2 separate regions of the Homo sapiens genome follow, and region 1 is linked to region 2. Evidence: fine-mapped expression QTL. A gene starts in region 2. The other region holds a variant in brackets. All regions are shown on one strand. Distances are from middle to middle.

Region 1 (15,428 bases), 60 kb after region 2:
GGTGATCAACCCCTAACTTAAACACTTAAAGTCTCTTTATGAATTTCTCTTTTTTTCTTCTCTGTGTTACCTGTGAATATTAGTAATCTAAAACTTTTTATTTATCACACATGGACACTTGGGAAAGGAAACTTGATTATATTTACATGGAGGCATTTGACTTTTTCAAGAGGCTTGACTCGTCTCAGGTGCAATCCTTAATTAAACATACAAACAAAATTTTCCTTTTACTTTCTTTGCCAAAACAAAATGTAAAAGCACTGAAATATACATTGCAAGTACAAATTTCCTGTGAAAATCTTTTTATAGAAACACAAATGTATAAGACAAATGTGCTTGTTCTTTTAAATTCTCCTGTTTCAGAATCTCTTTTTAATCTACTCCTAAGGATGTACAAGTTAGAGTCAGAAGACGTTTTGGATTTTTTCCCTCTCTCTCATCCTCCCGCTGTGCCCTTGCACTTGCATATTAATAACATTTCATGGACTGGGAAATAGTGTTCTTTTTTGCAAGCTTGATGTCAAGTTAGTCTAAACCAGCACCTGGCAGTATTTTAGTGCTCATCAACATTGTGACAATCACACAAGGAAGATCATTTCTACATTTCTGTCCTCCCTGCGTTCTCAGCTTGCTTAACCATTCCTCTACCTCTTGCATTTTTTTGCGGATAAATGTATCCCCATTTCTGCTTCTCTGTTTCCCCTCCTTTTCCATTGTTTTTCCTTATGGTACTACTTTCTCAGGTGCTACATATCATATATTTGTCCCATCTATAACATATTTAAATGCTATAAGTAGTAACTCCATTAAACAAAGGCATTTACAAAAGCACACAGGTGTTTAGAAAAGCAATAGTTTCATCAATTCCAAGTTATGTGGATATTGTAACTGGCCACAAGAATGAAATGGAGGGCATTTGGTGTCATAAGATGGCATGTCTTGATGACAAGAAACAAAACGCCCTTCATTAATATGCCTCAGTGTAATAACTATTATAGAAACTGTTGGCAAGCAGAGTGCTTTCCTATAACAGAATGTGTCTTAATTTTCTACTCGAGGGAAAGGTTTGTCCAGGTAACAACACTAAAGACAACCCTAAGAACACCCACTCCAGCAGTATGTCCATTAGACACTAAAACTCTCCAAATTATTTGTCAGGGAGCCTGGCGATTCTGCCAAGAAGGCAGGTGTTTTGCCCTTAGAGCCTATACAGTTCTCTTGGAGAAATTGTCTTTCAGGCACCACTGTTAATCACTGAGACTGATTCTAATGCAAAGCAGGGAAGACAGAGGCAGAAACCAGGAGAGTGGTAGATCAGTGCAGCCCAGATATCGGAATGGAGGAGCAAAGTTTCATTCACGGATGTTTGTTGAATGCTGCTGCCCAACTCTTCCTTTGTCACCTCTAGGCTATTCCACTAAGTTACTTATAAACTGGTGGCTTTAACTGAGGGCTGTGTAAAGGTACTATTTGGCATGTGAAGTCAGGATAAATTTATCGAATGTCCGTTTTCCACATGCAACTGTGTTACAGAAGTAGTAAAATTGGAAGAATCATGTTTATGGTGTTACCACTGATGGAAACACACAAACACCAAGCTAATAATAAATATATAACTTAAAAAGCTAATTATATGCACTGAAATGGTGGGAATTTTAGTGATGCAGTAATTGAGGAGTCTGGAGTTTTGTATTTGGACCAAGAATTATGAGATGAGGATCTTTTTCTGAGTGTTCTAAAGGGCTTCTTGAGGGGGAGTGGTTTAAAGCACTTCATGAATGATGTGAAGAAGGTACCTTGGGCTGAGACAGCATTCTAGGTACAGATGGCACTCTGTTCAACCAACTGTGGATGGAAAATATTCTGAAAAAAAATACAATAAAAATTTTAAAAATACAATATAACATCTGTTTACATGGCATTTACATTGTATTTGGTATAAGTAATGTATAGACGGATTAAGTATATGGGAGGCTGTGTGTAGGTTGTATGCAATTACTACACCACTTTATATGAGACTGGAGCATCCAGGGATATTGATATTGGCAGGGGGTCTGGAACCAGTCTCCTGCAGATACCAAGGGACAACTGAGTAAGGCGCAGATAGGAGCAGAAGCAGAATGGAGGCAGTGGTAAATGGCCAGTAAGTTGAGAGGAGCTGACCACGAGAGTCTTTGAGGATGGGGAGATTAGCACAAACATTGACATTGGTGAGGATTGTGAGTTAGAAGTTTTCTATTTGTATAAACAGTTACATATTCCTAAATGGCCCTCAAGGCCTTAAGAGTGTGCTTTGGAAATCAGGCAGAGGCACTGAACCTGAGGTCTCCATTCTGTGCTGCTCTTTCCCCCCCTTCCCCCATTTCTGCTCTCGAAGCACCACACAAGCAAAGCCATTGATCTAGAAGTGTGGCACCAGCTGTTTCTCAGCATGACAGTGTGACCAGAATGGAAGAAATGCATGAAAAAGAATTTCAGCGGGAAGAAACTGAGCTTGCCTGGGAGTTGGCAGATCTCTTATTGGCACAGTACACACCATCATTTGTGTTACTTCAGTTGGATCCTGGCTAATTCTCACAAGAAGAAAACATGTTTCACAAAAGAAAGATGAAATCACAGAAACATTTCTTTTCTAGAGGCTCTAAGGGAGAATTCACAGAACTGTAGAAAGAACCCACTAAAGTTAGAGACGAGCCTCAGGCCTATTTTTCAGTTTCTTTTTATTTTCTATTTTTCAGTTTCTAGGTGAAAATGGCTGCTTTTCTGTGACTTAAGTTTTTCCATTTATATGAAGTGGGACTGATTTGCTCAGTAGGAGTAATAGAAGTATAAAAATCATAAATGTGAAGCAAAAAGAATACAACACCTATTTGGAAAAAGTACCATGTTTTCAGGACCTTTTAAATCAGTGATTTTCTATCCTTTGTTCAAGAATCTTTCATTATCCATCACATCTTTGCCCGAAATGTTTTGAGAACATAAACAATTGGAATTATTTGAGCAATCTTTTTTACTAAATCAAAGACAGGTATGTCTGGAGAGAAGCTTCTGATTAGCAAATGGTACATAGTATTATCACCTACAATTATCACTGTGCATTCTCATGCCTAGTATTACCACATAAAATGCATAGAATTATCATTGTGTAATTCCAGGCAAACTTGCAAAAACAAAGCCTTGGTGTTTGACTTAACCTGTGGGACATCATCCAAGTGAAATGTATTTTTTGAGAGATTCTTTATAGCTCAATATCTTAAAGGATCACTAATTCCAGGAACCCCAAGCTGGGAACCACAACCTTGGGCAGAAATATTTACATGAGAATATGTTACAAAGGGACGGCAGAGATCAAGAAAACATAAATAGCAGATTGACCCTGAGAATCTCGTTCAATAAACAGCCAGTGTTTACTGAGTTTCTTCTATACACAAAGGCATAGTGCAAGCAAGATTCAGCCCCTAGAAGGTTATACAAAGGCAATGGGACTTGTAAAGACAGAAGACTTGGCGGGCTTTTCTGTAATCTGTGATGCTGATGATCTCTAATAACTAAAATAAAATTTCAGCTAAAGCAGGGGAAAGGAGGAGTAACCTCCTGAGGTGCCTGCAGGACCAATATGTGCTTATAATGTCCTATTTAAATATACACAGATAAAATTACCATATACTTCAGTTCTCTCTTGCGGTTCATTTCCTGTTTTCCTACAGGAAAATGGTTCTGGATATGTCCAAATCGAAGACATATGAGGCTTTCTCATATATCCAAATCTAAGGCTGGCTGAACTTCATACTATATACAGTCAATCCTCATTAGTTGAAGATACCATATTTATGCAATCACCTATTCACTAAAATTTATTTGTAACTCCGAAATTGTTAAAGACATTTACAAAAGCATACAGTCATTTACAAAGACAATAGATTCATCACCCCAAAGTCACGTAGATGTTGTAACTGGCCAATAGAATAAAAAGCAGGGCCTTTGGCAGCACTTTCAGGTTATCTGTGGACATGTTCAGAGCACCAAAATGTTTGAGTCGCCCAACACATATGTT[C/T]CCAGCTCAGATGGAGCAAGGTGATGCTCTGCTGCCTTATTTTAGCTTTCATAGTGCAAATAAATGTCCCTTTCATGGGTCTGTTTAGCACCATGTTTTTTTTTCCATTGCTTTGTGGTGATTTTGTTGTTCAAAATGGTCCAAGTGTAGTGCTCAAGTGCTATCTGGTGTTCCCAAGTGCAAGAAGGTTGTGATGTCCCTGATGAAGACAACGCATGTCTAGATAAGCTCTGTCCAGGTAGGCAATGTAGTGCTGTTGGTCAAAAGTTCAATGATAATGAATCAGTGATGGGTATTAAATAAGGTGTCTTTCAACAGTAGCACACATAAAACAAGATTATATCTTGATGGGCTGATGAGACTGTTGTGGTCAGAGCCTTGCAGGAATTTAACTCTCTGTCTCCCTTGGGAGCAATGATTTAGTATTCACTAATTCAGGGTTCACAGCATCTTTATCGAACATAACTACTGTGAACTGTGAGAGTCGACTGTATGTGTCTTCTCTCACCGGCAAGAGGGTGCAAGAGCTATTCGTAGATATTTTTGGTGCATAGAGAATGAAACCTGGAACACGTTACCAAAGAAGCAAACAGATCCTTTCTTGACATGTTCAGGAATTAAGCAGAAACTGTACTGTCATCTGTCATACGTTAGGTGTGACATCTGCAGGAGGAGAATGTACTGATGCATGTCTCCTCCTTTCTCCCTAGCCTTCTCTCCTTTTCTTTCTTTATAATAAATTCTCATTTCCTGGTATCAGCTCATCTGTGCTCAAAAGTCTCTACTCTGAGCAACAATATAACATCAGAGATCAGGAACATAGTCTCTAAAGTTAAGCCTGATTCAAATGCTGACTCCTCAGTTTATTTGCTGTGGCTTGTTACATCGGGCATATTACCTAATCCCGTTAAGCATGTTTCCTCATCTGTAAGCTAGGGAAAATTAATAATAGTATCTACCTCATTGAGTGGTTGGAAGGATTGCATAAGAAGGGCACATTACCTGGCATATAGTCATCCTATAAATATTTGCTGCTATTATCCTTCCTTCCTTCATTCCTTCCTGTCTCCTCCTTCCTTTCTTCCTGTCTGACCTTTCTCCTTCTTCCCTTTCTTCCTTTCACTAGATAGAAGGGATGCTAAGTCACTTAAGACACCGTGTCCTCAAGAAGCTTACAGCCCAATTGAGTTGGTAGGAAAACACACAGTAACCACAGTACCAGCTAGCATATACTAGAGGTATACAGTCAGTGCAGAAAAAAGCATACACAGAGTGCTATGGAAGTCAAAATAGAAACATTAGCATACGTTGGGCCAAGAGAGATGTTGAGCCTCTTGAAAGCAGACTGCTTATCCCTGCCTTTCTCTGGCACTGAGTGAGTATCCTCTGAACCCTCATTATTCTCAACAGGTGAAGCACAAATCCTCCTGGCAGATGGGAAGAATGCCACCTGTGCCAGCAATGGCAACAACTTCAGATACAAAGGATCTGAATGTCAGGAGGAAGTCACAGGGTAGGTGACTAACCCTGTATTTGAGTAGAGCAGGAAGGACTATCATATTTTTTATATGAAGTGAATCTAGATTTTAGAAATAACAATAGTATGAAGTACTTATGGAATTTAAAGTCTCCTACCCACATAGCAGCTGAATGAACAACTTGCCCCTGTAATGCTTTCCTGGTTCAACTCTTAGGACTCTCTTGTCAGCAAGCTGATCATGTGTTTGCTGTCTTGCAGATGAGCAACTGAGGCAAGAGGATTAGATGCTAGGAAGGTGTAGAGGAGATGTCCTGGGATGAGAGAAGAGGATCAGAACTCAGAAATCACTAATCTACTTAGTCTACTTTATGTGTGTGGTGATGGGGATGGGGGAGGGGCACTAGGATAAATACTTTTTCTTTTTAAAAATCATCTTGGCTGTCTTGGCTAGTGTAGCACATTGACTCTGCTATCTGAATTTCCTTTTATCGTGAAATACTTCAAAGATAAAAAGAAGTTAGAGAAATTATAACAAATAACCATGTACCTACTACTTGTTTTTGTTCAAGCTTAAAATTTTGCCACCTTTGCTTTAGGGCTGTCTTTTTTATCACATAAAAGATCACAGATGCAGGTTCTCTTTTGCTCCTGTAGCTTTAGCCTCTCCTTGTATCAGCTACTTCTGAGGAACAAACCACTCCAAAACTTAGTGGCTGAAACAATAAGCATTTATTCTTTATGATTCTACGGGTGGTCACCTCAGCAGTTCTGGTCTCGCCTGGGCTCATTTTTGAGTCTTTGGTCAGTGGTGGGTCGAGTAGGCCACTCTGATTATCTGGGCTAGGCGTTGTCACATGTTTGGGGGTTGGCTGGCTGTAGGCTGGTATAAATGACCTCTGCTGGCACAGCTGGACTTTTCTTCACTGTGAGCCATCCTCCGTGAGGCTAGCCCAGACGTGTTTACATAGTGGTAGTAGAGCTGGAAAAGAGGATTGACACACCATCACTTCCACTACATTCTGTCGTCGATTAAATCTGGTCACACAGCCATCCCAGACTCAAGAGGTGGGGTAATAGACTCCTTATTTTGATGAGAAGTGCTAAAAAGTCACATTGAAAAGAGCATGAACACAGGATGAGGAGAAGAACTGGGAATATTTTTGTCTTCAATGTGTCATAGTCTCTCCTTGGCAGTAACCGCTATCTTGACTTTGTTGTTATTCATTCTTACAGGTTAATTTATAGTTTTAATGCATATCCACAGAGTGTAGCCATAAGATGTATATAGTATTGTACTGAAAGCTTTATCTTCTACAGATCATTCAACATTTGCATTTTTAAGAATCCAATATCATGCTTTTGGGATTTAATCACGCTAATATACATATAGCTACTTTACTAATTTTGGCTGTAGTATATTTGAAGACTGAATTATATGCCTATAGTCCAATTTATGTATTTACTCATTCTCCTATTTATTGACAGTGAGGTTGCTTTCACTTTTGTGTCACTTCATACTGTGCCACAGCAACTACATTCTTGTACATGTATCATTGTGTACATATGTTACAGTTTTTCCATGGTTTATATCTCTGAAAAGAGTTTCTGGATTATCGACATCTTAAAATTTAAGAAATTCCAAATTTAACTCCATAGTTGTACCAAATTTTCCTTCTAATGGCATGTGTGAACACTCCTTTTTCTTCATATAGACTGGGCAGAAATTTTTGGAAATTTTAATTCTTACCATTCTGATAAGTATAAAATAGTATCTCGTTACTGTTTTATTTTGCATTTCCCTGGTTAGTGGCGATGTTGAGCAGCATGGCACATTTGTTGGTCATTTGGATTTCGCTTTTCTTTTTTCTTTCTTTCTTTTTTTTTTTTTTTTTTTTGACAGAGTCTTGCTCTGTCACCCAGGCTGGAGTGTAGTGGCACAGTCTTGGCTCACTGCAACCTCCATCTCCCAGGTTCAAGTGATTCTCGTGCCTCAGCTTCCCGAGTAGCTGGGATTGCAGGTGTGCACCACCACGCCCAGCTAATTTTTGTATTTTTAGTAGAGACGGGGTTTCGCCATGTTGACCAGGCTGGTCTTGAACTCCTGACCTCAGGTAATCCGCCCTCCTCAGCCTCCCAAAGTGCTGGGATTACAGGCGTGAGCCACCACTCCCTGCGTGGATTTCCCTTTTCATGAGTTGTCTGTTTGAATCCTTTGTCCATTTTCTTCTCTTCCATTGTTTTCCCTTTCCTTATTGAATTTGCAGACATTCTTTCTATATTCCAAATATTAAACTTTTTTTTTGAGATGGAATCTCACGCTGTTAACCAGGCTGGAGTGCAATGGTGTGATCTTGGCTCACTGCAGCCTCCCCTTCTTGGGTTCAAACGATTCTCCTGCCTCAGCCTCCCAAGTAGCTTGGATTATAGGTACTCGCCACCACGCCCAGCTATTTTTTGTATTTTTAGTAGAGACAGGTTTTCACCATGTTGGCCAGGCTGGTCTTGAACTCCTGACCTCATGACCCACCCACCTCAGCCTCCCAAAGTGCTAGGATTACAGGCTTGAGCCACCACGCCCGGCCCCAAATATTAAACTTTTATTAGGTATTCTTGAAAACCTCTTTTCTTTTCCCAGGCTGTGGTTTGTTGTTTTACTTTTTATTATGTTTTATTTTCGCAGAGGTCTTAAATTTTGATGTGACATATCAATCTTTTCCTTTATGGTTTAAACTTCTTATATCTCACTTGAGATACTGTTTCTTACCCCTAGTATCGTAGCTAAATACTCATATATTTTCTCCTGTGAGTTTTAACACTTTGCTTTTTCTTATTTGGGCCTTTAATCCATTTGAGATTCACTTTTGAATATTGTGAGGTAAGCATCCAATTTTATTAGGGGTGTAGACAGAAACAGGTAGAAGACAGTAACAAAACATGACTAAAACTTTCCCAACATTGATGGACATGAATCTTCAGATTCAGGAAGCAGGTTGACATCTAAGCAGAAAAAGAAAAATAAATCTACAGCTAGACCCTTTGTGGTAAAATTGCAGAACACCTAAAACAAAGGTAAATCTTAAAAGTCTCTAAAAAAATTTTTAAGAATCAAATAAAGAGAGATTTGCATGACAATTTTAAAGACTACAAATTTTCAACAGCAACAATAAGCACCAGAAAATAATAAGCATTAAGAGAAAATAACTGCCAATTTAAAATTTTGTAACCAACTAACCTGTCATTTAAGCCCTACCCATCACTTTCATTACTAGCTGTGACTAGGACAAATTATTTTATCTCTTTGAATCTCAGTTAATTTGCCCATAAAGTATGATTAATACATTTTCCTCTCTCTAATTCATAAAGCCACACAAGAAAAAAATAAGAATGCTTTACAAATTATCAAGTTACAAAACGATATAGTTTACTTTGATCGTTGAGAGTAGGTTCATATTTGAATGTGACAATCTTCATATTTTTTGGGGGATGAGGCAGAGCATGGAAAGTTGGATGCATGGACGAAAGGAAGAATATAATTATGCATTAAATGAATATTTATTGAGCATCTTTTGTGTACCATGCATTGTTTTAGATACTGGAAACATTGCATAATACTGAATAAGACAGATAATCTCATCCTCTGTCGAGCAGAAGAGACATTAAAATCAATGAACAACTATATATGAAATTATAGATTATTATGGGTCCTGTGAGAAAATAACAAGGGGAATATAATGGATATGCAAATAAGACAAAGCTTTTAGGAGGAAATTATATTTAAACTAAGACCTGAAAAATCGGTAGCAATTAGCCAGATAAAGAGTAGAGGAAGATGCTTTCCCAGGCTGAGGAAACAAAACAAAACACAAACAAAACCAAAAAGCAGGAGTTACAGGATGAACACAACTGAGTGTGGGAAACTAAAGCCCTGGATTTCTGTCTAGAAAGCTGAAAATGGGAGACACAAGGTAAATACAAGGAAAATTATAGAAAGGGAGAGTTTGAAAGCCAACCCATAGAGTTGTTTATGAACTCCTGGGCTTACACTAGAGATGTGCCAGCATGAATCTAATTCTAAACTTCATACCAAAGCTTTTGAGAGCTTAGACTACACCCAGGTTTTAGACTGTCTACTGAGTGACACACATGCAAGACAAATTCAGATAACACTGCAAAGTCTTTGAAAATGGGAATGACATTGAAACCATAACCCACAAGAGGTCGGTCTGAATGTGTGGCCTGAAACAGACTGGTTGATTGTCTGCTAGAGAAAAATATCAACATTCTCCATAGGACTGAAAACCTAGAGTCTCATAACAATAGTAAAAATGACCTGAATACAAACTAAAATTACTTGCCTTACAAAGAATCAGAAAAAATCTCAACTCTGAAAAAACAATCAATAGACAGTAATTCTGAGATGGCAGATGTTGGGATTATAATACAAAGACTTTAAAACAGCCATTATAAAAGCCCTTTTAAAATTCATTTGAAATGTGTAAAACAATAGAAATTCTTAGCAAAGAAATAGATCTAAAGAAGAACCAAATGGAAATTTTAGAGATAAAAAATATAATCTCCAAAATTAAAAAAAACACTCACTGGATAGGAACAGAAACACAATCAAGATGACAAAGAGAAGAGTCAATGGCCAGTGAACTTGGAAATAGATCAATAAAAAATTTCCACGTTGAATACACAGAGGAAAAAAAATGAAAAAATGATCTGAGCCTCATGGGCTGAATGGGAAAAACAAAAAGTTCTAAATTCATGACATTGGAGTCCCAAAAGAAGAGAAAAGATGTAGTGATGAGAAAACATATATTTGAAGAAATATTGGCTGAAATTTCTCCAAATTTAGTGAATAATCAAAATACTGAAAACTAAAGACAAAGAAAATAATCTTGAAAGCAGCCAGAGAAACCCAATGCATTACTCATAAGGAAACACCAATTTGAACGACTGCAGATTTCTCATCTAAACTTGTGGAAGCCAGAAGGAGGTGGAACAATTTTAAAGCGCTAAAAGACTGTCAATCTAGAATTCTATATCCAGTACAAAAATTCTTCAGGAATGAAGGGGAAATAAAGACATTCTCCAAGAAAGAAAAACTAAGAGAATTTGTTGCCAGCGAACCTGCTAAAGGAAGTATTGCTAGAGGAATTTCTTCAGACAAAAGGAAAATGACTTTCAGGATAAAAATTGGAACATGAGGAATGAAGGAAAAGGAATAGAAACGGTAAATGCCTGAGTAAATACAATATTTTCCTCTTGGGTTCTTTAAAGTATGTTTGATTATTGAAAGCAAAAATTATAACATTATCTAATGAGATTTTCAAGATATTTATGCAAAGAACACCTAGAACATAAATGGAAACCTATATGGTGACAAGGTTTCTACATTCCACTGAAGTGGTAATATTGAGTCTAAGTAGACTGGGGAAAAACAATATTGTGAGACAAGAAAGACTGAAACATTCATGTAAATGAGAGAAGTCTAATAGTATCATTGAGCTATTGGGTCACTACTGCTTCTTTCTCATCTTAGAAAAATTCCAAATGGAAAGTTTGCCTGAAGTACCATCCCTCTCACACAGTCCCACAGCTGATCACCAAATCCTCATCTTTCAAATCTGTTCATTTATTTCCATCCCATTGGTGCCTTCATAATTGAAGAAATAATTGGTGCCATTATTTCTTGCCTATATGCCATCTTTCAAACTGGTTTCTCCAACTCCAGTTTTGCCTCTTCTTCTTTCTTAATCTCACCATAATTATCTAAAATTCAAATATTATCATGCTGTGTTCCTGCTTCAAACATGTCAGTTGCTCCTATGTTGCTTTTAAAATAAAGAGTGAACTCTTTGGTCTGTCTCCTGATTACCTCTCCAACTCCTTCCCCCAAGCAATATTCTCTAGACCAGCATAGTAACTATTTTAGGATTTGAGGACCATGTGTTGTCCATTGCAACTACTCAGTTCTGTGGCTGTAGTGCAACAGCAGCCATAGATAATATGCAAATGGCTGAGTGGGATTGTGTTTAAATAAAACTTTAATCACAAAAACAGATGGCTTGCTGGATTTGGCTCATGGGCTATTATATGATGATCCCCTGCTTTACACAACTGAACTACCTCCAGATCTGTGTAGATGACATTTTCTTTCATTTCTTGAGTACTGCATAATCTACTCTCTGAAATATCTCCCTCCTTGATCTGGTTACCTTCAATTCACCACCAGGCCTCAATTTGGATGCCACTTCTTTAAGGAATTAAAGAGCCTTTATCCCTCTACCACCATTGTTGCACTTACCACACTAATATATTTATCTTTTCATTTGTCTGGCTTTCCCTATTTGTCTATAATCTTTTCAAGGGCAGAAACTGCCATGTCTACACTTTAATCTCTAGTGCCTAGCAGAGTACTACTACCAGGCACATAGCGCCCTCAATAAAACTTACATTTCCCATTGAGTGAGTAGAAGCCCACTAGCCCTCGGGCTGACCCAGCCCTAGTCTTAAAACTTTAGGGTTGGCAAAACACTGGCTGACAGTGTAGTTGTATCTCCATGGAAGCTGTGATCTGTTTTGGGTAAGTCATCCCTTTCCTTTGGCCTGGACTTTTCTCCCAGGGCAGTAGAGGTCCAAAATTAAGGACCAACCACTATATCTCTTCTTGGGCAGCACCCATCCCATCCACCAGGCAGCTCAGAGCCCTCAGCTCTGTCTGACCCCACTTCCGACAAGCACTCTCAGCCACTGACTTTAAAAATAAGCCCTGGGGGGGAAATTGCTACATCTCTTTCCAAATACTGTTACAAATGCCAAAAGTGGTGGACAATGAACCATTTGTGGTTAAGGGTGGAGCAACCACCATTCAGCCAGGCATCCTGGGGACTCTCTCCGCCAGTTCAGTGTCCTCCCTTTTCAGTGCACCACCAATAAAATGTCAAAGGCACAACTCTGTCTGCCAAGACATCAGGTAATTAAGCAGCTGAAGGGTCTAACTCACTCAGGGGTCAACCATATGTCCTGTTCTGAACTTGTGCTAAATCTCAAATAGAGATGTAGACCCTTTCTGCAGCACCTTACAGTCAAGTTGAAGAAACAAGACAAGCACATATGAACCATTTAGAAATTAGTAAAAATGCAGTTTATACATTCACTTTTCAAAGTGTATACTCAGTACCAGGCACTGTGCAGGATGCTGAGTTATAGAGATGAAAAAGAAGGGTCTCTTCATTCAAGGAACTGTCGTTATACTAAAATTTATGCCAAAGCTGGAATACTATAAAAGCAAACAGTGTTTAGAGTCCGAAGAAATTAACAAAGACTAGTTTTCAGAAAAGTAGGGCTCGAACTGATCTTGAGGAAAGTATGAGATAGAGATGAGCGGAGGAGAAAAGGATTTTAGTTAAGAGAAACGACATGACCAGAGATGTGGAGGAGGACTGGGTGTGGAGAGTGGAAAGGACAGCTGAATAGTGGGAGATGAAATTAGACTGGAGAGATAATGAAGGATCATATTGTGGATCTTGAAGATCCAGAATTTAACTCCAAAGGGGGAGATGATAAAATACCTTTCCTCTTTTTCAAAATTAGGCTTTAATTCACACCATCAAACCCATCCTTTTAAAGTGTAAAATTCAGTGGTTTTTAGTATATTCACAAAGTTATGTAACCATCACCATGATCTAATTCCAGAACAGATAACATCTTTCTGAATATTTCTGAACAGAGAGTTCATGGGATAAAATTGTTTTTCAAGCAGATTACCCTAGCTACAAGAGCAGGAATGATTATGTGTGATATAGAATTGGACATGGAAGCAAGCTAACAGACTCAGAGGCTTGGGGACCCGGGCCAGAATCGGTCACAGTGCCACCTCCTTTCCATGATATTCTCACCTCATCCATGAAGTGGGATAATTTATTGAAATAATAATCTGTATCTTTTTCTCCTTGTATTTTTCCTCACTCATGCCAAGAGCACGGCCAGACGTTTGTGTTCCCTAGCCTAAGCAGTACTGGAAGCTAATCTAAAATCCTCTCCTGACTTCTGTTTTAGGAATTCTGAACTCAGTGTTGGGATTATATTTGGGGAGAGGAGAAAGGGGACTATTTGGGAGCAGTGGAAGCTGAAGCTGAGAGAGCAGAGATTCCCCCAAACTGGTTGTATGTCACAGTGGTTAATAGAACAGATTCTGGTGCTTGACTATCTGGAATTGAGCCTTGACCTTGGGCATGTCACTGAACTTCTATCTGGGTTTCCTTGAAATGGGGATAATGAGAATCAATGATCTTGTTCTGAGGACTAAATGAATGAACATACATGAAATACTTATAACACTGCCTGTCATATAAGGAGAGCTATATAAGGGTTTGCTTGTTACTATTAATAAATCAGAGAAAAATAAATCATTGGCACAGGGTGGTGGAGTGTTGTCCTGTAAGGACTATTGGGTGGAAACAAGAGTAGGAAAAGATTTACGAGTAATGAAGAGAAAAACCTGAAAAATAGAGGGAATATTAAGGATGCAAGACTTTTAAAAATTAATTGTTATTGACAAAAATTATACTATTTATGGCTTACAAATGTTTTGATAGATGTATACATGGTGGAAATGCTAAATCAAGCTAATTAACATATTTATTACCTCATATACTTACTTTTTTGTCATAAGAACATTTAAAATTGACTCTGTTAGCTATTGCAAGTATGCAAGATGTTTTCATTAACTGTAGCCACCATGTTGTACAGTAGACCTCCTGAACTTATTCCTTCTGTCTAATTGAACATCGGCCTAATTCCCCCCCTAATTTCTCCAACATCTACCTAATTCTTCCCCTTCATCCAGCCCTCGGTAACCACCATTCTACTCCCTGCTTCTATGAGTTCGACTTGTTAAGGTTCCACATATGAATGACATCATGCAGTATTTGCCTTTCGGTGCTTTGCTTATTTCACTCAGCATAATGTCCTCCAGTTTCATCCATGTTGTTGCAAATGGAAGGACTGCTGTCTATTTTAAGGCTGAATAGTATTCCATGGTGAATACAGGAATATATATTCCTATATTCCTCACAATTCTATGTTATGGCTGAATAGTATTCCATTGTGAATATGGGAGTATATATTCTTATATTCCTTGCATTTTATTGTGTACAAGGATTCTCTTTTCTCCACATCTTCACCAACATTTGTTATCCTATCTTTCTGATACATAATAGACATCCTAACAGGTGTCGGGTGACATCTCATTGTCAATTTCTGATGTCATTTCTGATGACATTTCTCATGTCATTTCTGATGATTACTGATGTTGAGCATTTTTTTCATCTACTCGGCCATTTATATGTCTTATGTCTTTTTTTTCTTTTAGAAAAAGCTACTCAAGTCCTTTTTAAATTAGATTACTTGTGTTCTTGTTATCTAGTTGTTTGAGTTCACTGTATATTTTGCATACTACCTATCAGGTGTATGATCCCCAAATATTTTCTCCCATTCTGTGGATTTTTTCTTTATTCTGTTGATTGTTTCCTGTGCTGCATGTAAACTTTTAGTTTGATGAAAGCCCATTTTTCTATTTTTGTTTCTGTTGCCTGTGCTTTTGGGGTCATATCCATAAAATCTTTGCTAGGCCAATGTCAAGAAGATTTTTGGGTCTTACATTTAAGCATTTAATCCATTTCAAGTTGATTTTTATATATGGGGTGAGATAGGGGTTCAATTTCATTCTTTTGCATGTGGATATTAAGTTTTCCCCACAGCATTTTGTGAATAGACTGTCCTTTCTGGGTTGTATGTTCTTGGCACCTTTGTGGAAGATAGGTTCATCGTAAATCCATGGACTTATTTCTGGGCTCTCTGTTCTGTTCCATGGGTCTATAATGTCTA
Region 2 (14,389 bases):
TGTCTATTCCACAGGTAATGCCTTTCTGTTAGTCAGAAATGCTACTTTACACCTTTAGTTTGTTGAAACGCTACTCATTTTTCAAGGCATAGCTTAAAGGTTAACTCGTAGAAAAAACTTTTTCCCCAAATGCTATCACTGAATTGAACTGTTCTGTGTGTCCCTGAAGTTTGCACACCCCAAAGGTTTAACACAGTGCTTTGCACAATTAATAGCTTCCAAGAACTTTTTTGACTGAATTCCCATAGAATTAATTTCGAAGTAGAATAAAACCTACCAGGTGCAAAGTCTGGTTCAGTGTCATTAGCACTATCACCATCACTGCCTTCCAGAAGAATCTTCCTCTGCTGTGCTGCAGCTTTAGATGCTGCTTTTCTTTTCCCTTGAACACCACCAACATCATCTTCCACAGTAATCTTATCCAAATCTTCAGGAGAGGCATAAAAATCAATGGAAAACTTTCTGTGACAACTGATATTTCAAGAACTGCAGACCAGACTCTATTACAGCTATTGTTTTTATTTGCCCAGGTTCATCCCTCCCATGCTTCCAGTAATAGACTATTAGCCCAATCTGGGTCAACCATGGTACATCAGTGCCCTGGGAACACCTCTAGTTTTAGGGATAAATCCAAGACCCAAACAGAGATAATCTTTCCCCCAAAATTTTCAAACTAGAATTGGGAATATGCAGCCCCTTTCTTCAAAGGTCAGTTGCTCCAACTAGAAGCCACGGGTAGTTATGACCCTTCAGGGAAGAATGTGTGTCTGCAGTACGACAGAATGAGACTAAAACACAAAGAAATAAAGGCCATGACATCAAGAGAGTCTTGACAAATTTAAAGAACTTGCTTCTAGCCACAATTTCAGCAATTTAAACAAAAGTCAGAGAAACAGCATTGTTGATGAGAAAAATTATTAATATAAAAAACTTACCTAAATAATCACTGGCTACACTGCAATTAGAGATATGAGGAGACTTATTCATTGTTTCTATTTTACTACTGCCATGTTTTTCAATGCCTAAATATAAGGAATAAGAAAGAAAATTCAGATATATCTTAATCAATGTCTAGATATAGGAAAATTAGTACTAAAATGTAATAGCATTTAGATATAAATAAATGATCCCAAACTCCAACTGGCACAATAATTTTATTCAGAGAGGTTAACATATGGTTAGAAGTCTGGGCTCTGAAATCTAACATGTTTAAATTCAGGCTCTACCATGTAAACTGGCTATATGACCATGGGCAAGTTGCTTATCCTAAGACTGAATTTCCTCATCTATAATGTGGAGATAAAAATAGTGTCTTACCCAGTGGTATTACAGAAGACCAAATGTGGATCTCACATAGGAATTGCTTATTATTGTGCCTAATATACAGGAAATGGTCAATAAACTATCAATTCTGTGTAGGCAAATCCATGCTTTTACTAACGTTAAGAACTCTCCAATCGTTATAATAACCTTAAAATGACCCAAAGCATTCTAAGAGGACTTTAAGACATAATAATTGGTACTATTAAATTCCAATGCTATAAGGTGCATTATTTAATAAGAAATGGTATAATATTAATACTTCTAAGGAACTCCCCTTATACATTCTACAATGTCTTAAAAGAGAGAGATGAATTTCAGTGCCTCCATTTTAAATGTAATTCATGATAATTCTCTTTTGATGTTTCTTTGATTCTTGGTTACTAAAAGTCTTCCTAATCAAACTTTCATTTCTTTTTAAAGAGGAGGCAGCCAGATAAGGTGGCTCTCGCCTGTAATCCCAGCACTTTGGGAGGCTGAGGCAGGAGGATTGCTTGAGGCTGGGAGTTTGAGGGCAGCATGCGCAACATAGTGAGACCCCTCTCTACAAAATAAAAAATTAGCCAGGCATGGCGGCACATGCCTGTAGTCCCGGCTACTCAGGAGGCTGAGGCAGGAGGACTGCTTGAGCCTAGGAGGTCAAGGTTGTATTGAGCCATGATCATGCCACTGTATTCCTGCCTGGATGACAGAGAGAGACCCTGTCTCAAATAAATAAATAAATAAGGAGGCAGTACTGATTTAAGAAACAAAGAAAAAAGCTCCATGTATACCCCTAAATAAGATAATAAGCTAAAATATCCCCCAACATAAAAACTTTAAGCCAAAAAGCATTTTAGCAGTAGAGTATCTTTTTCAGGAATAATGATTTCTGCCTCTCTAGAATATTAATATATTGCCAGAAAAATCAAAGGAGAAAATCAACAGAGAAATCCAAAAGCCATTCTCTTAAGTCTACTGAACTTGCTAACCAAATTAATACCTTTGACCTTTGTAAGTAATAAAAATTACCATAATTAGGGTATGTTTAACTGATCTGGAAAAAATGGAGATGGATTGTTAGGACTGTACAGATCAAATCATTTGATGAAGAAATTAAATGTTCACTGTACAACAACATATAATTCGAACACTGAGGCTCACAGTCCGTGCCCTCAAGCTTATTCTGGGTGTTAAGCAGAGATGTATGTCTGTTTGTATGAGATTTAGGCAGCTGAATTAAGAACTAAATCCAATCGTATTCTCTGCAAATGGGTCTATTTATAGTGCAAAGTATTCACATTTTACCTGTTTCCTCTGTGAAGGCCCACCCAAACAAATAATCACAAAAGCATTAAGAAGGTTTTAAAGCTAAATATACAGAAAATAAAGTTACTTTTATCTTGAGAGTTCTGCACATTAGTGGTGACTGTTGGAAGTTCCTTCACTGATAAAGCTAGTGCAACTTCTAAGTCTCTCTGGTAGAGCTTGTCATCTAAAGCCATCCTAAAATAGATACACAAGTAATAATGAGTTCTTCAAAATATCAATCTCAACTAAAGAGCAAAGTTTGAGATTTCTCCAAATTACTATTCAAGAGTTGCTAACTTCGCAAAAATGTTTTTAAACAATCATCATTAATAGACCTTTGATGATAAGATAAGACTCCTAAAATGTCACAGTATCATGTTACATACAGAATAAGAGGTTTGAAATAGGAGGACCATGTGCCTCTTTGCAATGACTGTTCCCTTTCATTGTAATGTGTCACCTTACTACCAGCTGTGTCCAGGTGGGAAACACCCTACTCAACCCAAAACAGACTTGGTTCAAACATCACTTCCACTTAAAACTCTTCCTTGACCTCACCCACTCCCCTTTAGCAGATTTTATAGCTCTTACATTAAATTAAAATTATTATCATTTTTTTACATCTCTTCCTCCCAATCCAGACTTTAACAAATATTTTACCAAGCACTTACTTTGTACAAGGCACTGCACTAGCTGGAATACTAAAAGTACCTTCAGGGAGTCTGCAATTAAAGGAGGAGGGTGGGGAAACAAGACATGCTAATAATTATCCTATAAAAGGCAGACTATAAAGTCCTATTCAAGCTGCTCAAAAGTGCTATGGAGTATAAGAGGAAGAAAACGTCAAAGACAGATAAGGAAAAGTTACATAAAGGAAGAAGCACTGAGATGTACCTTAAAGAATTTATTTTTTTAGAATAACAGTTTTCTTAAGATATAATTCACATATCATAAAGTTTACCTTTTAAAGTAAACAATTCAGCAGTTTTTAGTACATTCACAGAGCTGTAAAACCACCAACACTACCTAATTTCAGAACATCTTTATTACCCCAAAAAGAAACCCCATACCCATTAGCATTCACTTCCTGTTTACCCCTCTCCCCTCCTAGCAACCATTAATCTGCTTTCCGTTTCTATGGATTTGCCTATTCTGGACATTTCATGCAAATGAAATCATGTAATATGTGACCTGTATATCTGGCTTCTTTCACTCAGAATGATGTTTCCAAGGTTCATCCATATTGCAGTATATATCAGTTATCAGTTGTCATTTCTTTCTATGGCTGAAAAATATTCCATTTTGTGGAAACCACATTTTACTTATCCATTCATTAGCAGATAGACATTTAGATTGCCTCCATTTTTTTTTAGCTATTATGAATAATGTTGCTGTGAACATTCATGTATGGGTTTTTGTGTGGGCATATGTTTTCATTTCTCTTGGATACATACATAGGCTGGGTCATGTAATAACTCTGTTTAACATTTTGAGGAACTGCTAAACCATTTTCCAATTTAGCTGCACCATTTTACTTTCCCACCAGCAATATATGAGGGTTCAAATTTCTCCACATTCCTTGTCTTTTGTATTAAGTCATCTAGTGGGTGTGAAGTATTATCTCATTCTGATTTTGATTTGCATTGCCCTCACAGCTAATGATATTGAGCATCTTTTCATGTGTTTATTGGTTATTTGTTTATCTTCTCTGGAGAAAGTCTATTGAAATCTTTTGCACATTTTAAATTGTGTTGTTAGTCTTTTTACTGTTGAGTTTTACGAGTTCTGTGTATACTCTGGATACAGTCCCTTATCAGTTATCTGATTTACAAATATTTTCTCCCACGTGTGGGTTCCTTTTTCTATATATTTAAAATGTAATACAAGAAACTCACAAACAAAAACCAAAAAAAAGAAAAGCAAAAAAGAGCATGACATGAGGTAAGTTTCTCCAGGCTAACTCACTTTTCATAGAGAAACTTGTGGCAGTAAAACATTATATATGCCATGTTCCATTTGTTAATATTCCCCTTCCGCCCATCTCTTCTCCATACTGCAAGTTTTGGGTCTCTAAGGACTTCCTTCACTCCTTTCTGCCTCTTGATACTATCTAATGGAATTCCACGGTTAGTCTAGAAACTATGGGAACTTCTCACTGCTGGATAAATCTTAACAACATGGGGAGAAGACATCTTTTTCTGCAAGAAAATACATGGTTTTATATTTTAAAAACTGTCCTCATATTAAGTCATCTTGTGTCTTAATCATCTTAAGTCATCTAATGTCATTTTTAACAAAGTAGTCTCGTATGATTTGAGGAATTCAGAGATAAGTGCTGGGTCCTGTCAAAACCAGTCATAACTTCTGAATTCTACAATCATTATTGTCTTAATATTTAATGATACTTCCTTGAATGTTTGTGAATTTCTTTAAGTCAGAAAGCCAGAAAAAAATAGTACGTCCTGTTTTCTGACTGCACCTAGTAAAATAAGACCTATGACTCTGCCCAAGTTCTAATTTAAATCAAGGGTTCGAATCTGTGTCTCTTTAAAATTAACACATCTAATGTCATATATTTACTGCATGTCTTACCTCTCACCTTTTTTTAGGGGTTTTCTCTTGTACTGGGATTTCTTCTTTCCGGAGATTGTTCAAGTTAGGTTTTGGTTTATCTTGTTTTAACTCCTTTGGTGCTGTTCTGGATTTCTTGTTTAAAGGTACAGTTGCAGAAACAAAATCATCTATTCATGTGTGAATTAAAACCAAAAGAAAAATATTATTTTCTTCATAAATGAAAATCATTACCATGTGTGTTCAAGTTTTTATAGGCTAGGCAAATTGTTTAATTTCCACAATTTAAAAATCATTGTTAGTATTTTGTTTATCTTTACTCTCATTTATCTATTTCGACTTTTGTTTTTGTGCCCTTTATATTTAAAAATATCAGTCTATCAAAAACCAATTCACTAAAAACTGCAAAAGCAATTAAGACAGCATATAAGTGTCAAAGAAAAAATGATTAAAAACCTGTAAAACCATTAGAAAAATTGGTAGAATTTAATCACATTGAAAAGTGGAAATAAATTATTTTTATGGGAACTTCACAATGTAGCCAAATATCTTTTTTCAAAGCCCATTACTTGGGCCAGGCACAGTGGCTCACACTTGTAATCCCAGCACTTTGGGAGGCCAAGGCGGGCAGATCACCTGAAGTCACGAGTTCAAGACCAGCCTGGCCAAAGTGGTGAAACCCTGTCTCTACTAAAAAATACAAAAATTAGCCAGGCATGGTGGCGGACACCTATAATCCCAGCTACTCAGGAGGTGAGGTGGGAGAATCGCTTGAACCTGGGAGGCAGAGGTTGCAGTGAGCCAAGATCGCGCTGTTGCACTCTAGCCTAGGTGCAAGAGTGAGACTCCGTCTCAAAAAAAAGAGAAAAAAAAGCCCATTACCTATTCCTAGTACATTAACCATGCTAGAGGAAATAAGCATTATGGGGGGAAGAGAAAGTAGCTCCTATTTGAGGATTTTTACAATAGTAGTATTTTCTCTTTCCATTACCATAATGATCTTCCTAAGATCCTACCAAAGTAACTTCTTATTTTCTTGCAAAAGGATGTTCTTTTCCAGTCCATTACTGTTTCTCACAGGTTTTTCTGTCTTACCAATCCTCTGAACTGTTGTAGTTCTACTCTTGACTGTCAACGTAAAACTACTGCTGTGGCTTTTCCACATGTATACAACACATATATGCATACTTTCAGGGTCTATGCAGTCTTCATCACATACTCAGCAAGCACTAATACTTGTTGTCTCTTATATGCTTCCCCATGTAAAAATAAGATAACTTAGGACTCCCCCCACCTACTACTACACACCTGGCAATTTATAAGTATCTGATGACAGACTGATGACAAAAAAAAAAAAAAAGCTAGATGTTATACTCTACACTCTTTTTCCCAAGTGGTAGATACAGTTAAGGCTGTGCTCAAGGCAAAAACAGATTCCTTCAAACCGAAGACTTACTAAATATTTGACTTACAGAAAACTCTAGTGGTCTAAGAAAGAAATATTAAATCCACTTCAACATATAACATAATCTAATGCAATGTTCCTCAAACTTTTCAATCATAGCAGAGTCAAGTAAACATATGACTAATGCTTAAAAGGCATAACATAAGCCTAACCTTTCTTCAAGGTCTTGTTTTATAGTACAATTAATAGGGATTTTATATAATATGCTGTAACATCTTTGTATCTCAAAAAGACAGTGTTTTCCTTCTTCAGGGATGGAATAGGAGACAAACCTCTATGTTGCAACTATGGACTTTAGAGTAGTTTAGATCTAAAGAGACTTTTCACCTGGCCTGTTCATTTATCACCTACTAACATAATTTTTATCAGTATAATTATCAGCATAATTATCCCAAATGATTAGAAAACTATCTTTCCAGACCTACCTCATATGCATTTGGGCAATTTAGTCAGTGTTTGAGCTATATATGTCATATAAATTCCGAGGAAATGAGTTTCCAAATCTTTAGAACAAAAATAAGAAGCTTTACTTACCATCACTGTCAGAGTGGTCAAACTGTGAGTAATTGACTGGTTTCTTATGTCTATGACCAAAACAGAATTTTTTCATTAACACAAATGTCAATTTCTCACCACTATTACTTAAGGCTATTAATGAATATTATTTATTTATTTAATATTATTCATTTATTAATAAATAATGAATAAACGAAATAAATAAAAATGTGTTAAATGAAATGTGTTTCAATAAATGAAAATGTGTTTGGGTTCAAGTAAGAATATTTAACTCTAAAACATGATTTGCATTTTACCGCGGGGATTTATCATTAGCTAAAATAGTTACAACTATACCTGATATACCTGGGTATTGTTGGCTTTTCAATTATATGATAAAGGAAAAAAATTCAGGTAACTTACAAAGAATAATCTACATAATTAACATTTATAATTGCTATACTGTTTAATTGCTGTTGGGCATTTGTAAGTTCCCGTTGTACGTGTTCTTCTGTTTTGTGTGTGCATTCTATCTTCCTTACTAGATTATAAATTTCTTGACACTAAAAGCTACTTTCTTTTCAATCTCTCCACCATACCAAATAACATTTTTATGCAACGGACACTTAAAAATGGTGAGTGACCTTGTTCCTACCACCTGAGATGAGTATCCCTTATCTGAAATGCTTGGAACCAGAAATGTTTTGAATTTTGGATTTTTTCAGATTTTGGAATATCTGCATTATATACTTACCAGCTGAGCATCCCAAATCTGAAAATCTAAAATCTGAAGTGCTCCAATGAACATTTCCTTTGAGTGCCATGTAGGTACTGCAAAAGTTTCAAATTTTGGAGCATTTCAAATTTGGGATGCTCAACTTGTACTACTTCAGAGGGCATTAGAAGAAAATGATATTCAAAGTGAAAAAAATAATTTTTTCCTCCCTCCTCTAGGCACTAAATAAAATGTTTTTCTAGTTTTTATTTCTATATTTTTGTCAAATGGCTAAATGTGAATAACCTAATTTGTCAGCTGGTTGTTCTTTCAAGTAAAAAGAATGTTCTATGAAAAAGAGGTAGTAAGCTCAGCTCACAACTCAGACAATCTCACAAGTGCTTTTCCTTGAGATAACTATCACGCATCAGTATACAGAAGTGCTTTATGTGTACTTCCTGTTTCCTCACGCAAACTATTAAAAAGTGCACTCATATTACTCTCTTACTCTTCAGAGTTAAAGAAGTTAGAGCTGAATAAAATGTGAAAACCCCTTTATAAATTCTGAACTTGAATAATAGTAAAATAAAATCAATAGCCTATTTTTAATTAGTATACTTAAGGGTTAAGCTATGATGAATATAATAATTTCCACTACTTCATCAAGCATATTCTTAACTGAAATGATTTTTTTTTTTTTTTTTACTTTTAAGAGTATGGCAGTAAACATTGCAAAGACTAGTAGTACAATTTAGTGCCACTGCCTTAATTGTTCTGAGGTGCCAGCAGTTTTATCGGGGTCACTGCAGTGCAAATGACAAAGCAGCGAAAAAGGCAAATCATATCTTAGTATTGTTATGAAAGGAGTTTTGACCTCATAGACCTCTAGAGAAGTTTCCAGGGACCCACAGAGGTCTGTAGACCATACTTTAACAACTGCTGTTCCTTACAAAGGGATTATGACTCCACTGCCTGGATGCTTAAAACCCATTTCAAATTCAGCATGTTCGAAACAGAAATCTTGATCCCTCACACCTCCTAACCTTCCTTTTCCTAGTCTTCCCTATCTTAATACAAAGATCATCCATCCTGTAGCTCAGACCAAAACTATTGTGGAGTCATCTCTGATTCTTTCTTTCCCTTACCTGTACATCTACTTCATCAGCAAGTTCTGTCCACAGTGCCTCCGAAATACATCCCAAATTCATCTGTTCCATTCCATGCCCACTAATAATACCCTATCCCAAACCGCTCTCCAATGATATAATACCTGATTTTCCTGCTCCCGTTCTGGTCACCCTATCCATCATTTATTCTCCACCAACAGCCAGTGACCTTTATAAAAGCAAACTTAGATTCCTCTCCCCTACTTAAAACCCTCCACTGACTTCCCATTGACTTAAAATAAAACCTAAACTCCTTTCTAAGACTTACAAGACCCTATCTGTTCTGGCACCTGCCTATTTCTCTGGCCTAATCCCCCTACGATTCTCCCCACTGCTTGTTAATCCTATAGCATTAGACTGTCCCTAAAATATGGTCAAGTATGGGGCCTTGGCTCCTATTCCCTCTACCCTGATTCATGACTCAGTGCATGCATTATCGCCTCAGAGTCACATATTAACTACTATATTTAAAGTAGTGCTTTCCTCTTTCGCACTCTCATATTTCGAGGCTTATTTTCGGCCCCCTAACCTCACCTCCCACTGGAATGTAACCTCCAGCACCTCGTACACTAAAGAAGTGAATATATTCAATAACTTTATTAAATGAATGGCTAACTATAGGCTTCCATGGCACTCAACTGTGTAAATAGAAGAATCGTTTCTAATACCACGATGGAAAGCACAGAGGATCTTGAGTGAGATGACTTAGGTTTGAGTATTGCCCTGCCACTTACTGGGCTGTATGACTCAGATAACTTACCCTCTATACGTAGAAATGTTAAATCAATACAACAGGAATGCTTACTCTTTCTATATCAAATAACTACAGTGATAAACAAATAAAATAACACATAATTGGGCGCTCGGTGAAATGTAAAGCGCTGTTCAAACGCTAACAAGGTCTTGGTAAAAGAAACGGCGACGGTTGTGAAGGGAGGCAAAGAGAAGGAAAAAGCTACGATGCTAGGATACTTCTGAGCAACGGGTGGCTCTCACTGGAGACTGGGTTCTTGATAACCGTCCATCCTAACCCCACCATCGCTGCCCTCCGGTCTTACTCGATCCTTTCCCCTTAGTCTCATGTCTTTTCCCTTAGTTTTCCTCCCACCCCCGACGAATGTCAGGAACTACCCACCTCACAGGCCGCACCATGGTCCCTTTCAAGGCTTGGTATTTACAGTTCTCAAATTCTTGTTGGCTTCAGCGGCGGTTTCAATTCCCGCCCAAAACCAGACTTCGGAGCCCTCCGCCCCCTGTTACCAGTCGTCCAATCATCACCAGCCATGCTTGCGGCGGCGCACGCGCTGTGGGGAAAGCGAATTTGCTCCCGCCCTCCCCAAGGCACCGCTTTTCCGTATCCGGTCCACCAGAGCCGAGTTTGTGCTTTGTCCCTGCACTTTCGTCACAACGGCGGATTTGCCCTGTCTCTGAAATACAGAATAACAATAGAAATACACCTTATTGCACCTTTCAAATTGTTAAATTGAAACAGGTTGGGACATAGGGGCACTTGGACTGAGAAATTTTCTACAAGATGCCAGGAAATAGAAAAGGATGTGGCGAATCTACGTTCGCGGATCCGCGGTGTGGAAAAAGTATGTCGGCAAGTCAGCTGGTTTCCCAGTGCAGGACGCGCTGACAGCTCGAGTGAGCGGACTGCCCAGGACTTCGGAACTAGACGAGGTGAGCCCAGAACCGAGTGAGGATGCCCTTTCAGACTGACAACCGTTACAGAGGGATTAGTCCCCTCACCCGGCTGAAGTTTCTCAGCTCGACCGTCTGTCTTCCTTTTCCCTGATTAATGTGAGCCTCAGAGCCTCCGCTCTGTTGGCTGTGTGTGTTCGGTCCAGACCTTCCATCCCATTTTCTTATGGGAAACCTTCCTGGATTTCACGGTTGCTAAAACTGAACCCAGGCTTCAGGATAGACCATTAGTCTAAAAAAAGAGCGAGAGGAGAAAGAACTAAAGTTATCAGTTTCTTGAAACACAAGTCTAAATGTTGAACCAGAGCTTTTGTGTCTGCCTTCTCTTTTTTTTTTCAACATTCCTGATTCATTCATATTTTTGCATTTATCAGTGGTTGATTCTTTTTTATTGCTGTGTAGTATTTATCTCATAAAATAAACAAGTTTACTATTCTCCTACTAATACGCATTTTGGTTGTTTCCAGTTTGGGGTATTATAAATAAAACTTATATGAGCATTCTTCTGGGTGTACTTTAGCGAACATATGCGTGTGTGTGTATTTGGATATATACTTAGGAATGAAATTTCTACATCATAGAATATACCTTTATGTAGTTTTGGTAGTTTTCTAACATTATAAAAATTTGTATTGCTTTACGTTTAATTTTAATTCTTTCTGAGTAAAACAAATACCCTATCTCTTTGCATTATGGTGAAATAGACGAAGATTTTTGTGTATAGCCTACATACAGATTTGAAAATATAGTCTGGATAATTCAACTTAGCCCCGCCCCACGACATGTACAAAAGTCCTTTGAGTTTTTTTTATATTTCAGGTGATATCTTTTTAAATAACCGTATGAATAATTTTTTGTTCTTTATTTTTCCAGTGAGCACCATAAAATAAAAACGCCATACAATCCAACAATTATTTATTAGTTCTTGCCATTCGCAACATCCTGCCTAATACATGGAATACAAGACAGTATTCCTTCCACTTCAAGAAGACTGTTTTCTAGCCAAGAGTAAGAAATAGAGCGTGATAAGTGCCATGATTCAAATAAGTCTAGGCTAATATGAGAGCCTGTCGGGACCCAATCCAGTTTTAGGGAGTTGGATAAGTCTTCCTAGAGGCTTAACTGAGACCTGAAGAATTAGCAATTGTTATCCAATGAAATTAAGATCAGTAAGAGTGCTCTAGGCAAAGGAAAAGGCATTCAAAAAGATTCGGCATGGAAGGAGAAGTTTGGTGTTGACAGAAGTTCAGAATGGCTGGAAAATAAAATTTGTGAATTTGTGTATTAGGAAGGAGAGGTGCAGTTTCTGAGAGAAGAGTGGAAATATAAGCAGGGGTGTTGTAAACTGGGATAAAGAGTTTGCATTTTATCCTGAGAGCAATGGAATGTCATAGAAAGTTTTTAAGCGGATGAACAACATGATCAGATAAGTATATTCCTTTTTTAAAAAGGAAGATTACTATAACTTCAGTGTAGAAAATAATGTAAGAACTGATTTGATGGGAGAAAGCCTAGCCATAGGAAGTCCAGTTACAAGGCTGATGAATAAATAAATCTTTAATTGATGTTGATTCTTACTGCCTTTAACTAGATTTTCTTCTTCCTTAGTAGTGTCTAGTTTGCCTTTGGGGTGTGGGCCGGAAGTGGAGGTCCTGTACTCTCTCTTTTCTGTGTATCTTCTTCCCACATGGAAATCTTTCTAACACTTTCTTACTCCCCTTCCCCCAGTCGGATCTCATGACCACAACCTCTAAGTTCTCCAGGATCACTCCTTGGTCCCTGATCTGCTTCTTTGACTTTCTTTTTACCAACGGTTTCTTAAGCTTTGTATTTCCCCACCCATGAACTCTCCCTAAGAATTCTCTCTGCTCTTCTCTCCATGGTCCTTCCCTATTATTGAGAACCCTGCCTTGGAATATAAAGTACTTTATGGCCATAATTTTTTTTCTTAAATCAAGTTTAAAACAAAGTGTCTTTTTTTTTTTTTTTAAAGAAGCACTTTGTTTTCATCATGAAGATGGAAGTACAGGGATAAACACTTGGGAAAAACTAGAATAATTGGCTCATAGACAAAATCTCTTGAATGGTGGAATGTTTTCTTAGAAATGGGACAGCAATAATGAAACATAATTTCTTTATGGACTTATAACCTACTGCTTTTTTGTTAGTTCTGTAGAAATCCTGTCAAAGAATATGAAGAAAAACAGAGAAAGATTCTGCAATAGAGAGAGAGAATTTGTATATAAATTTAAAGTAGGAAGTCAGTGCTTAGAACTGAGAGTGCCACTCAAATTTCCTGTTCAAGAGAATGCCAGTCATTTGCATGGACGTCTGATGCTGCTGCACAGTTTACCGTGCTTTATAGAAAAAGGTGAGGACTGTTTTTTTTTTTAAGTAACACCACTTTATTAGTTTCAATAGTCTGTCATTGGAAGTTTCATATTAGAAAGCATAAACCTAAGAAGCTTTGGAAACAGCCATAACATAGGAACTGATTCCAAGAATAAAAACATTTCTCCAGAGCTTTCTTTTATTGAGTGTTTTTTCCTATAAGTGGTAGTTGTTTATAAAATATAAAAATTAGATTTTATAATGAAAAATTAGCTACAAAGTTTGGAATTAGAGGAGCTCTTCTGAATTTAGTTGGGTGAAGTTATAAGGCAGTTTAGCTATCGCTAATTGTGCTAATAGAATTATAGTGCTAAATTGGTTGCCCTTTTAATAATCTGGTCATTAATTTCTGAGATGCCATAGAACAGAAAGTGTACTAATTTTTGAATAGTCTTTGCTTACCTAAATTAGTTTTATAAAGTTAGATGTATTAAACCATTTTTAAAGGTCTGTGCTCTATCTCACAGTCTAGGAAAAATTTAAAATTCAGAATATGTTAGATCACAGGTTAGAGTTATAAGAGAACCTAGAAACTTTATAGCCCAATCACATTGTACAAACAAGGAAACTGGAACATAAAGAGGTTAAATTATTTACCCTAGGCAGTGGTTCTTGAAATATGGTTTCTAATCATTTAGCAGCAACAGCATCACCTGCAAGCTTGTTAGACATGCAAATTCTCGGGCTGCATCCCATTTCTGCTGAATCAGAAACTAGGGTAGCATGTGGCAGTCTGTTTAAATAAGGCCTCCAGGGGTTTCTAATGCACACTTAAGATTGTGAACCACAGTCTAAAGTCGCGAACATAGTGATAATAATAGAGCCAAAGCCAGAACACAGGTGTCCTAACTTCTCTCTCAGTGCTCTTCCGTTATATCATTCTCTAAGTGGTGTCTGTAAAACTGAAATCGGTCAGTCATCTAAGTTAAATGTGTTAATAAGCTAGTCATTTAACTTCTCTTTCAAAGGATGTAACAATGTACCCTTTAAAGTTACATGGAAAACTCTTTTTAATGTAAATACAGTAATGTTCAGACCTTCAAAATCTGTAGCATTTTCTTTATGTCCTTATACCCACTTGGCTTCAAACTGAAATATCAGGCTTAAGAAAGTAACATTACTTTATTAGTATCAAGGGAATACGTAAGAGTTAAGACTTTTGACCTTTCTCTATGCAATAGCCTGTAATAGTAAAGGAAAATAATCATGAAATTAGTTAAATGATCCCCTAAGCTGATTTCATTTTAGTTGGAGATTCTATTAAGAGTATCA

Alleles and levels. Positions count from the first base shown, and alleles are read on the strand shown. Sizes are in standard deviations (SD) of each study's normalised expression.
For the expression in monocytes after Pam3CSK4 of the gene that starts at base 10,224 in region 2, C is the low allele of the variant in region 1 and T is the other (large effect, 2.3 SD a copy in Quach 2016).

The links.
Region 1: its variant is fine-mapped to the expression of RAD51AP1 in monocytes after Pam3CSK4 (Quach 2016, PIP 0.95). The same link has a PIP of 0.9 or more in monocytes, monocytes after LPS and monocytes after R848.

Annotation. Positions count from the first base shown.
Region 1 is chr12:4,474,206-4,489,633 of GRCh38, reverse strand. FERRY3 (FERRY endosomal RAB5 effector complex subunit 3) reads left to right here. Exons shown (of 14, transcript NM_020374.4): 14 at 1-1,899. Among named protein-coding and RNA genes, the nearest start is that of FGF6, 36 kb to the right of the region's middle. RefSeq lists an enhancer at 3,197-3,491. The variant C/T (reference allele first, on the strand shown) is at 4,055.
Region 2 is chr12:4,534,725-4,549,113 of GRCh38, reverse strand. RAD51AP1 (RAD51 associated protein 1) reads right to left here and starts at 10,224. Exons shown (of 9, transcript NM_006479.5): 1 at 10,158-10,224; 2 at 7,181-7,230; 3 at 5,210-5,351; 4 at 2,696-2,805; 5 at 936-1,022; 6 at 278-427. The coding sequence starts at 10,174. FERRY3 (FERRY endosomal RAB5 effector complex subunit 3) reads left to right here and starts at 10,645. Exons shown (of 14, transcript NM_020374.4): 1 at 10,645-10,705; 2 at 12,895-13,097. The coding sequence starts at 12,920. RefSeq lists enhancers at 9,792-10,400, 10,401-11,010, 13,685-13,744 and a silencer at 10,616-10,665.